Linked DNA regions of Homo sapiens: region 2 is linked to region 1. A link means that fine-mapping ties the variant in region 1 to the expression of a gene that starts in the linked region. Tissue or cell type: whole blood. Region 1 holds a variant in brackets; the other region holds the start of a gene. All regions are shown on one strand. Distances are between the middles of the regions.

What was found. PIP is the estimated chance that this variant, and not a neighbour inherited with it, causes the effect.
Region 2: CCDC141 starts here. The variant in region 1 is fine-mapped to the expression of CCDC141 in whole blood (TOPMed, PIP above 0.99). The same link has a PIP of 0.9 or more in blood mononuclear cells.

Annotation. Positions count from the first base shown.
Region 1 is chr2:178,831,827-178,836,979 of GRCh38, reverse strand. It overlaps CCDC141 (coiled-coil domain containing 141), which reads left to right. Exons shown (of 24, transcript NM_173648.4): 23 at 1-86; 24 at 2,540-5,153. The coding sequence ends at 2,807. Among named protein-coding and RNA genes, the nearest start is that of TTN, 27 kb to the right of the region's middle. The variant C/T (reference allele first, on the strand shown) is at 2,762.
Region 2 is chr2:179,047,973-179,053,125 of GRCh38, reverse strand. It overlaps CCDC141 (coiled-coil domain containing 141), which reads left to right and starts at 2,989. Exons shown (of 24, transcript NM_173648.4): 1 at 2,989-3,286. The coding sequence starts at 3,185. RefSeq lists enhancers at 2,913-2,992, 3,003-3,252, 3,443-3,492.

The DNA of each region.
Region 1 (5,153 bases):
CTCCTGTCTAATGTAACTGTCATGGAAGGTTCTCCAGTGACTTTGGAAGTTGAAGTAACAGGATTTCCAGAGCCTACACTGACATGGTGGGTAGCCTATAATGACAAGCCATAAATGGAAACAAATTCAATCACAGAGAAAAATCATTCTGTGAGCACTAACTGAAAGGTTTAGGGCTAGCTGATTAATATTCTATGACACTGCAACTCTGCATGATTCAATCTCACATCAGACCCCTCTCATTTTAGTAGCAGCATAGTTAATACCTTTAAGAAAAATAAAAGGTAACCATATAAAGTACTAATAATTTAACAAATTTCCAAAGCACTGTAGGTTGGTTGTGCTTGTTTTCTTCTGTGTTTAACATTCCACATTTCTAAAGATTGTGGGTTGAAATTATTTTTTATTGTCTATTTCCATATAAGCATGGCATCTGCTTGCTTTAACTACCTTTATGCAATTGAAAATATAAGAATTTGTTTTTATTTCCCTTTACTCTCATTTACCTCTTTCATCTTTTTCCTCTTTCCAACAGAGTCACACGTGTCATCTTTGTAACATTTTGTTTTACTAGGATTTCTTTTTACAAATTTTTTCAATGTGAGAGGTGGAATATAAATATTTCTGTCACAGTTCCTCCAGGTGACAGGCAATAAACTCATTTTTGAAAGGTAGTATAATAACTGAGCTGTAAACAATATGATTTCACTCTGGAGACATCATTATTTTTTAGCCTCTTTTTTTCAGTAAAAGCAAACTGTAGAATACTGGTTTTGGATCACCTACTATTGGTAACAAAAGCAGTTCTTTCTCAATATGTGGGTTACTTTTAAACATTTAGAAAATTCTCATCCTTAAGTAAATTTATTTCAGGACAAAGTTACAAATCTGCAAAAGCCAGTTTATACTTATAAACTAAGATTAAGTAAAATAGCATTTATTGATCACAATGTTTCAGTAGATATTAAATGATCAGTTTCAGTTATTGTGTGTGCCCATTGATGGTACTTGAAATATGAACCAGTTATCTAAGGAACTTATGAGAAAACTTTGGTTTCTCAAATTATTTAAAAAACTGCACTTGTGCTATATTAGTGCAGTCACTTTTGCTTTTTGTTTTATTGTCTTTACTGTTGCATGTTTTTTACAAATCAAGAGTGTCATATTTATGAATTTTAAAGATATTTAATTCATTATTAAATCTCAGTTCACTCCAAAGAAAAATGTTGTCAGATGTGTTTCTTGTTTTTGTCCACACAGTAAATATTAATAATTTGGTTAGTATGTGTGTGGTTAAAGAAGCACTGCTACATACGTGTCGTTGAAGAATATTGCAATGTTGTAAACAAATGTTTTGTCGTCAGATTTACAACTGTGCTCAATTAATAACTGACAAGCTTTCAGGATATCATACATTCTTAGGATACCCAAGAAAAGGCAAAGTTATCACTTAGGCAATGGGAACAGAAAACGATTCACATTTGTCATCACCCCTGAGTGATAGATTGTGGGTAGAAATAAATAAACAAGAATCTCAGACATACAAAATAAAATTATTTCTTTATAAAACCATGCAGTTAAGCACTCATGTTCATAGGAACCTTCTAGAAATATGTTATTAATAGTCATAATACAGTTGCATAAATACCTTTTATAATTAGAAGTCATTTTCTTCTAATGAAATTGCTTCAAAAAAATTAAATGAAGTGATCTCATCAGGAGGTGATATTAAGTACAGTCCTCTAAAACAGCACATCTGTATTGTCCTGTGGATACTGTGGTATGAATATGATGGGGTAGATGAGTCTCACTCCCATGCAGTTTATAAGGAGTCACAGCTGCTGTTCCAGAGTGGCAAAAAGAATAAAGCTGGACAACATGAGGGTGCCATTTCACACCCTAGGTAATTGTTACTATGAGCAAATGGTGGCCTAGTGTGACCAAATGGTCTGCTTTGTTTTTGTTTTTGTTTTTAGGGGTAGCTGGATATCTGAATTTTCATATGCAATATTCCAATTTTTAAAGGATTTCAAAAAATTCAGTTTTCCAAAAACATTGTCTGAGCCAGTCAAAGCAATTCTCTCGCCACCAGTTGCCAACTTCTGCTTGAAAGATAAACAGCGCATAATACCAGCTACTCAGGAGGCTGAGGCAGGCAGATTGCTTGAAACCAGGAGTTCAAGACCAGCCTGGGTAACATAGCGAGATCCTATCTCTTAAAAAAAATAAAAAATAAAAAACTTAGCCTGCACATGGTGGTAAGCGCCTGTAGTCCCAGCTACTTGAGAGCCTGAGGTGGGAGGATTGCTTGATCCCAGGAGTTTGAGACCGCAATGATCTCTGATTCTGCTACTGCAATCTAGCCTACTAAAGAAAAAAAGATAAAGAGCCCCACTGGAATTTGTTGTGGCTACAAGGTTCCTACTAATCCTAAGAGAATATTGCAGTGGTAATGGGCCTATTTGCAAGCATTATTAGAACTTGGAAATAATGTGAATAAACAGCAATCCTGACTTTAAAAACTGCCTCTCTGCTTCAGGTACAAGAAGGGCCAGAAATTGTCTGCAGATGGGCACTTACAGGTTTTACACAAGGAGACAAGGCATTCGGTGTTCATTCCAAAGGTATGCAAGGCAGACGCAGGCCTCTATGTGGCTCGGGCCCAAAACTCTAGCGGCGCTCTCTCTTCCAATGTCATCCTCCACGTGACAGGTAACTGCAGGCTGCCAATCACAAGAGTAAACTGGATAACCCTGTGTGT[C/T]GTCTATGTTAGTGTGTCCCTAATGTACTGGCTCCTCACACAATAACTGTGGTGTTGGCACCAATGGACATCATTCTCATGTGCCTAAAGAAAAGTGCCGCCGTTTATCTTCCTGCACCTCCTGCAAAGCATCTCCCACCAAGTGTATCTCCAGTCTGATCACCATACTTGTTTGGCTAATACCACTGCTAGGTGAAATAATCAAATTTTCTGGAGCGTTTAATATATTTGAGAAGCTTGGTAAATTATCTGTAGTGGATAAGAACAGATTTTTGTACTCTAGAAACAGATGTTTTCAACATAATATGCAGCAAAATTATTCTATGCCTATTCCCTCCTAATTTAAGGGCGTGCAGATGAAGGCTGACATCGGCATAGAAATGTGCTAAATTTCAAATATGGTTGTTCAATAATATATTTTTAATTGTATTTTAAAACATCCCTTTGTAGGGAATATCAGTAGAACTATTGAATTGATGTTGTATTTTTGCATTAGCTGTCCTTTAATTTTGCTTTCCATGTCTTGATCTTGTTACCGAAATGCATTCTGTGTAATTTCAACGTAGACTACGTTCCTGAGTCTGATGATGTCATTGTAAATAATCATTCCTCATGTTGCTCTCACGGGTTTGACATTGGAGGATAGATGTGCCATCAACTTTAAATAGAGTTTCCATCTTTTGTCAGCTCTGCATGTCATACAGCAAGATGGAACACAGGTTGCAAGAAAGAACCAACGTTATTCCTGACATTCTATTGATGTGTTTTGAGCAGCAATGTGTAACCAGGTGTTTCTGCTTCTAATCTTGATTCTGCTGATGACCATTTTTATACTTTATGGCAAAGCCTCATTGCCTCAGTTTCCTGTCTGGAAAATGAGTTCATCATCTACCTCTTGGGCAATTGAGAGTTTTCATTTTGTGTCTTTTAAACATCTGGAAAATGGAAAACACTGAGGGCTAAGGATAATGATATTGTTTAATGTAATTTGTCATCAGACCGGCCTCCTGCTCACTATTTCTTTTTTTTTAGATGCTGTTTTTTTAGAATATTAAATTAAAGGAGTGCTGTTAATATGTAATCTTCAACTAGTTCCATGGAGGAAAGTGATGTTTTATGAATTAGAGCTTAAATTCCTATCTAATTTCTGAAGACTGCATTCTTTTCAAAGACTTGAAATTAAACTCAGGAGGATACATTTTGTTTGTTCTAGGGGGAAACGTAATAGAATGGTATGAGATGAATTCTATCCTTTTACAATAATTATTACTATAATATTGAAGTATTCTATGCCTTTCTGAAACACTTTATTCAGAAAAGATCATTTTTTGGCTTCCTTTTAAAAATAAGCTTGAAGTAGGGAAGCATTTGCTTCTTAGATTTTAAATGTAGTCTTATTATGCTGAGGAAAATCTTTAGTTGAAAGAATAATTCATTACAGATTTTTGATGAAGGGAAGAAATTAATTATGTTGCTGGAAGACTGTCTACAAATAATCAAAATATTTAAATGTAATGTATTCAAGTTGTTATTAAAAAGTTACTGAATGTTATCTGAAGATGTGAAATGTGTAGTCAAGTAAAAAGTTGGCGTATACTTTCTTGGGCTGCATATCCAATTTAATTAAAAAATTAAATCTCAGTTTCCTTCTAAATTTTGATAGAACTATATTAAAAGCTTGTATACACAGCATTCTAGGAAATTTCTCTTAACTATCTTTTTTTTGTTTTTTTTGTTTTTTTTTTTTTTTTTTGAGAAAGAGTCTTGCTCTCTTGCCCAGTGCAGTGGTGCCATCTTGGCTCACTGCAACCTCCACCTCCGGGTTCAAGCAATTCTCCTGCTTCAGCCTCCTGAGTAGCTAGGATTACAGGCATGCCTACCTAATATTTACATTTTTAGTAGAAACCAGGTTTCACCATGTTGGCCAGGCTGGGCCTCAGCCTCCCAAAGTGCCAGGATTACAGGTATGAGCCACCATAGCCGGCCTCTTGTATCCTTTTTGTCCAATTTCAAATAATGTGTGAATCTTGCCTAACTGCTGTTGCCCACGTTGAAGCTAAAGAGTAAAAACCTATTCATGAACAAAGAAGGCAGGTGAGACCCGGTAACAAACTGTCTCTCTTCCCACTTTCTCTTTCTTATTAATTTGGCAGGATCTCCCTTCCCATTTTGTCAACATGGTTGAATTTGTGTGTTGGGGTTGTTAGGGCATGGGAATTCCTGGTTTGCTTTCTCTATTGCATGCTTGTTCATGTTAACTCTTTGGGGAGCAGAATGAGATACATATGCATCCATGGTTATGATGGAAAAAAGCATGCAAAATCCATTTTTAGAGAGAGAGAGAAAGAGAAAGGTGGGGGTGGGGGAGCACAAAGATCAGAAGAGTACTATG
Region 2 (5,153 bases), 220 kb before region 1:
TTCAGGCCCCTTCCCTTCCCTAAACATCAAGCTCAGAGATTTGCCCCCACCCAGGACTAGCAAATTAGCTTTACTTAACATGCCCCAAGTCAGGAAACTAAAATACCTCTTGGTCTATGTAGACACTTTCACTTGATAGGAAGATACCTTTCCCACAGGGTCTAAGAAGGCCACCACGGTCATTTCTTCCCTTCTGTCAGACACAATTACTCGGTTTGGCCTTCCCACCTCTACGCAGTCCGATAGTAGACTGGCCTTTATTAGTCAAATCAGCCAAGCAGTTTTTCAGGCTCTTGGTATTCAGTGAAACTTTTATATCCCTTACAGTCCTCAGTCTTCAGGAAAAGTAGAACGGACTAATGGTCTTTTAAAAACACACTTCACTAAGCTCAGCCACCAACTTAAAAAGGACTGGACAATACTTTTACCTCTTTCTTTTCTCAGAATTCAGGCCTGTCCTCGGAATGCTACAAGGTACAGCCCATTTGAGCTCCTGTGTGGACGCTCCTTTTTATTTAGCCCCAGTCTCATTCCAGACACCAGACCAACTTAGATTTTGCCCCCAAAATCTTGTCATCCCTACTATCTTCTGTCTAGTCATACTCCTATTCACCATTCTCAACTACTTATACATGCTCTGCTCTTGTTTACACTGCTGGTTTACATTGTTTCTCCAAGCCATCACAGCTGATATCTCCTGGTGCTATCCCCAAACTGCCACTCTTAACTCTTGAAGTAAATAAATAATCTTTGCCGGCAGGACTATGCTGAATCTCCTTAGGCACTCTCTAATCAGATGTCCTAGGTCCTCCCAATTCTTAGACCTTTAATACCTGTTTTTCTCCCTCTCTTATTCCATTTAGTTTCTCAATTCATATAAAACTGTATCCAGGCCATCACCAATAATTCTAAATGACAAATGTTTCTTCTAACAGTCCCATAATGTCACCCCTTACCACAAAGTCTTCCTTCAGCTTAATCCCTCCCACTCTAAGTTCTCATGACGCCCCTAATCCCGCTCGAAGCAGCCCTGAGAAACATCCCCCATCATCTCTCCATACCATCCCCCAAAATTTTCACCGTCCCAACACTTTACCACTATTTCGTTTTATTTTTCTTATTAATATAAGAAAGGAATGTCAGGCCTCTGAGCCCAAGCTAAGCCATCATATCCCCTGTGACCTGTGTACACATCCAGATGGCCAGTTCCTGCCTTAACTGATGACATTCCACCACAAAAGAAATGAAAATAGCCTGTTCCTGCCTTAACTGATGGCATTATCTTGTGAAATTCCTTCTCCTGGCTCATCCTGGCTCAAAAGCTCCCCTACTGAGCACCTTGTGACCCCCCCACTCCTGCCTGCCAGAGAACAACCCCCCTTTTTCCTTTACTTACCCAAATCCCATAAAACGGCCCCACCCCTATCTCCTTTCGCTGACTCTCTTCTCAGACTCAGCCCACCTGCACCCAGGTGAAATAAACAGCTTTATTGCTCACACAAAGCCTGTTTGGTGGTCTCTTCACACAGATGCAAGTGAAAGAAGGAGCCTGCCTGCAACCTTCCAGGTCAGTTACCTCTTTGCAAGCTCTCCAGCCCTGCCATAAAATGAAACCATTTGCAATAGTTGCTACATCATAGCTTGCTCGGCATCTGCTTTCCTGAGCTCGCTCCAATTGTTCCCTTCATGGGGTCAGGTGAAGTTCGTGTTGCATAGGGACTAGGATCTAGGTATGGTTTCCATCTCACTGGGGCAGCAGGCAGATGCTGAGCGCAGAGGACATGGGTGGTGGCTACACAGCTGCAGAGCAGCCATGACATGCTCTTGGAAACAAAAATAATTGAACACTGAAGTATGTGTAAAAGTACTTTTCCCCTTTGAATCAAGAATATGATCATGAACCTTAGCAAAACAAAGCAATGGAGCTGACTCAGTCTTCTAAACATTGGCCCTGAACCTGAACCTACTATTAAATTGGGCTAAAAGGTTTACAGAGCAAGTGGATTCATTAAAACTGTTTTTTGCTATATTCTCTGTTGTGGCTTTGTCCCAGAGATTTCCAATGCTTCCAGCAGCTTTGGAGTTAGTAACTCTGATATGTTTGCATCTGACTTCTGACCTAAACTTTAGTGTTATTTTCAGCTGTTCTTTGACAGGGAATCCAACAGCTGCTGTTTAATACCACAGACAACTTGTGACACAGGCTGAGTTTCTAGCAATAGGATTAATCTACCAATGTGGGGCACTGATTTGAAGCTGGCTATAATTTTCCTGAACAGGAGGTGGGGGTAGGGAATAAAAAGCCTGAAGCACAGTACTTTCCTTTTTGTTTTTGTTTTTAATTGCAGCAAAATATATGTCTTAATAACTTTTAACCACACAGAAAACATTTTCTTGCTGCAATTAAAAGGTAACAGCAAAGTATTTTGCTTTCTCATGGTATTAATAACTGAACTTGAAAACCTTGTCCAATGGAGCAGAATAGTCACAAAGAAAATCTGAAATGATAGGCACCTATTTATAAATGCTGGTTGAAATATTTTTTAAAAATTCCTAAGAAATCTGAGGCTCTGAGAAAATGTGGCTATTCCATCTAAACTTCATTTAGCAAAGAACAGTAAGTTTTAGAAAAGCAGATTAATCTAAAAATGTGTTTTAAGCAATTTGTGACTTAACCCCAAGACAAATACCAAAACTTTTTTAAAGTACACTTTGGTAGTTCTCTTTGCATCAGAGAGATTTCAAAAATCTTGAAAAGATTGATAACCAGGTCAAAGACTTACTTGTTTCAAAGTCCATGGTTACAATGGCATAGTTTCGGTGGCAAAACTAATTTGGGTTGTCAGGATGTAATTTTTTTTTCCATTTGTTATCAAACATCAGCTGATAAGGAAAGAGCTTGAAGCTGTCCTCCACATTTAAGATAACAGCAAAAATAACAGGCACTTAGTGTCACCATACTAGGGGCGTGGCAATTCTCTCTCGTTCGCTCCTTTCTCTCTCACGATAAACTCAATGGGGTTGTCTATTTTTAACCTCCTGTTCTTTCCTTTTGGCAGAGTAATCAGTGTGAGCTGAGCTCTTTCCCTGAATGAATCCAAGTAACCCTGGCCTTCTGAAATGACCAGCAGACACACAACTGTCCAGAGGCTGCCCAAAGTATAAACTCTGGTTCTAAAGTACCATGTCCAGCCAAGGAAGTCCTAGTGTTGCGCTTTCTACGACGACAGTCAGTTCAGTTGCTGTGCAGGCTGGGGACTCCAAAATCGTTATAGCTGTCATAAAGGTAAGCTAACAACTTCCTTTTTTCTGTGCGGCTGTGGGCTTCTAGCTGTGTGTTGAAAACCCTAAAGAACATTCCATGCAATCGGCAGGACACAGCATAGAGAAGACAACGCAGCAAGCACTCTTACTGCTTTCTAAAATGGGCTACTAAGAGAAACCTCTACAAGTTTCAGCAGTTACCAGAGATTCTCTTTCCTTTCAGTCAGCCAGAAAGCATCTATAGCAGCTTGATTTAAAAAAAAAAAAAAAAAGAAAAGAAAGAAAAATAAAGAAAAGAAAACCTCTAGCATATACTGTCAATTTGGTCTTTAAAAGCAAGGCATTGGTAACTGGAAGTTCATGATTGCCTGACTAAAGAGTCCAATGGACCTGTGGAATGCTTGTGATTTTTGAGAGTGGATGTGATGGAGGTGGGAGGAGGCAGGTCCCGACAGACAGGGGGAGGGCACTGCTTTAAGCACGATGGAACTCAGAAAACACCAAGTAAAGGGCTCCGACATGTGCCCTTTGCCACACTGGTTTTGACATGGTAAAGAAACTACTAAATCCTTGTCCAGTAACGAAGACCATGCAAGGAAAGGTACAAAAGCTTTGTGTCAAATTTGCTCTTAACAGCAGGAAGTAGAAGCCACTTAGGGTTTACAATTACTGCATGTTTTATGACAACCCATTTGCCCATTTGCAAAGATGACCACACATCTTTAGGCTGAAGAAGAACTCCATGATTTTATTCTCCATGGAAATGCCCTGTAAAAAAAAGCTTTCAAGCACTAGGCTTGGGCTTTAGATGATATTCCACCTAAATAATTCAGTGTTTAATGAAGGGAAAGCTGGCAAACAAGCTGATGGTCACAAACCAGTTACTTTCAGGTCCCCACCAGGTTTAATTGAATGACTTTTCTGGCCTTTTGTTAGAGCATGGACAGCAAGCCATGTTTACTTTAACTTAATTGCTGTGAATTTTATGGTAATGTGAAAATTCATACCAGGAAAAGAGCACTTGATACTGAGCAAAACAGTTCACTATAGAAGGACAGAATGGAAAGTATTCCTGCCGAGGTGGATTTTCTGGTGTTGTGAGACTTCTCTCCCACAGGAACCAGGCCTCTGCTGACTTCCTCACCCTCCCATCTTTTCAGAGTCCCAGAGAGGAGATGAAAAGAAGCCTGATGCAGAAGTAGGGCAAACAGATCATTTGCACGGGATTAATGATACTTTGAGTTAACTGCAGATTTCAGCAATGAGGGAAAAGAGGCAAACTCACTATTTTTCAAAAAGTTAACTTTCCATTTCCTCAAATATGAACATTCTTGGAGCAGGATGAGGAATAATATTAGAGGATAAATTACAGAAGAATCAGAGGTAGATTGAACACAAAAAAATTACACTGGAAATTACACTGGAAAATTACACTGGAAACTCTTATTTTAACTGAATTGTGTTTCTAAGAATGTTCCCCCACTACCCTCTCCTCAGCCCTCTTACCTTACTGCCATCTCCATACAAAATACACCCCAAGCAATTCAGAGTATAAAGTCCACCTTAATGGAATGGAAGTGCCTGTGTGTGATTTATAGTGACTGTCCAAACTGTCTCAGGGGACTGAATATATTCTAAAATAGAAATACATTTTTCTAATTTCTCTTTAGTAATTCAGGTATCTACATGCGTATGCGTGTTAGTGGTTCATTTTGCTTAATGAGTTGTTGCTTCTTAGAAAAGCAATTCCTCAGGAAATGCAATGACAAATTATATCTTAGAGCAGTGTAAATCTTGTGTGGAAAGCAAGTTGACTGTGCTCAAATGGCAGTTGTCACAGGCATCTAATTTTGTTAATATTTTCCTACACGCTTTAATGAATATTCAAC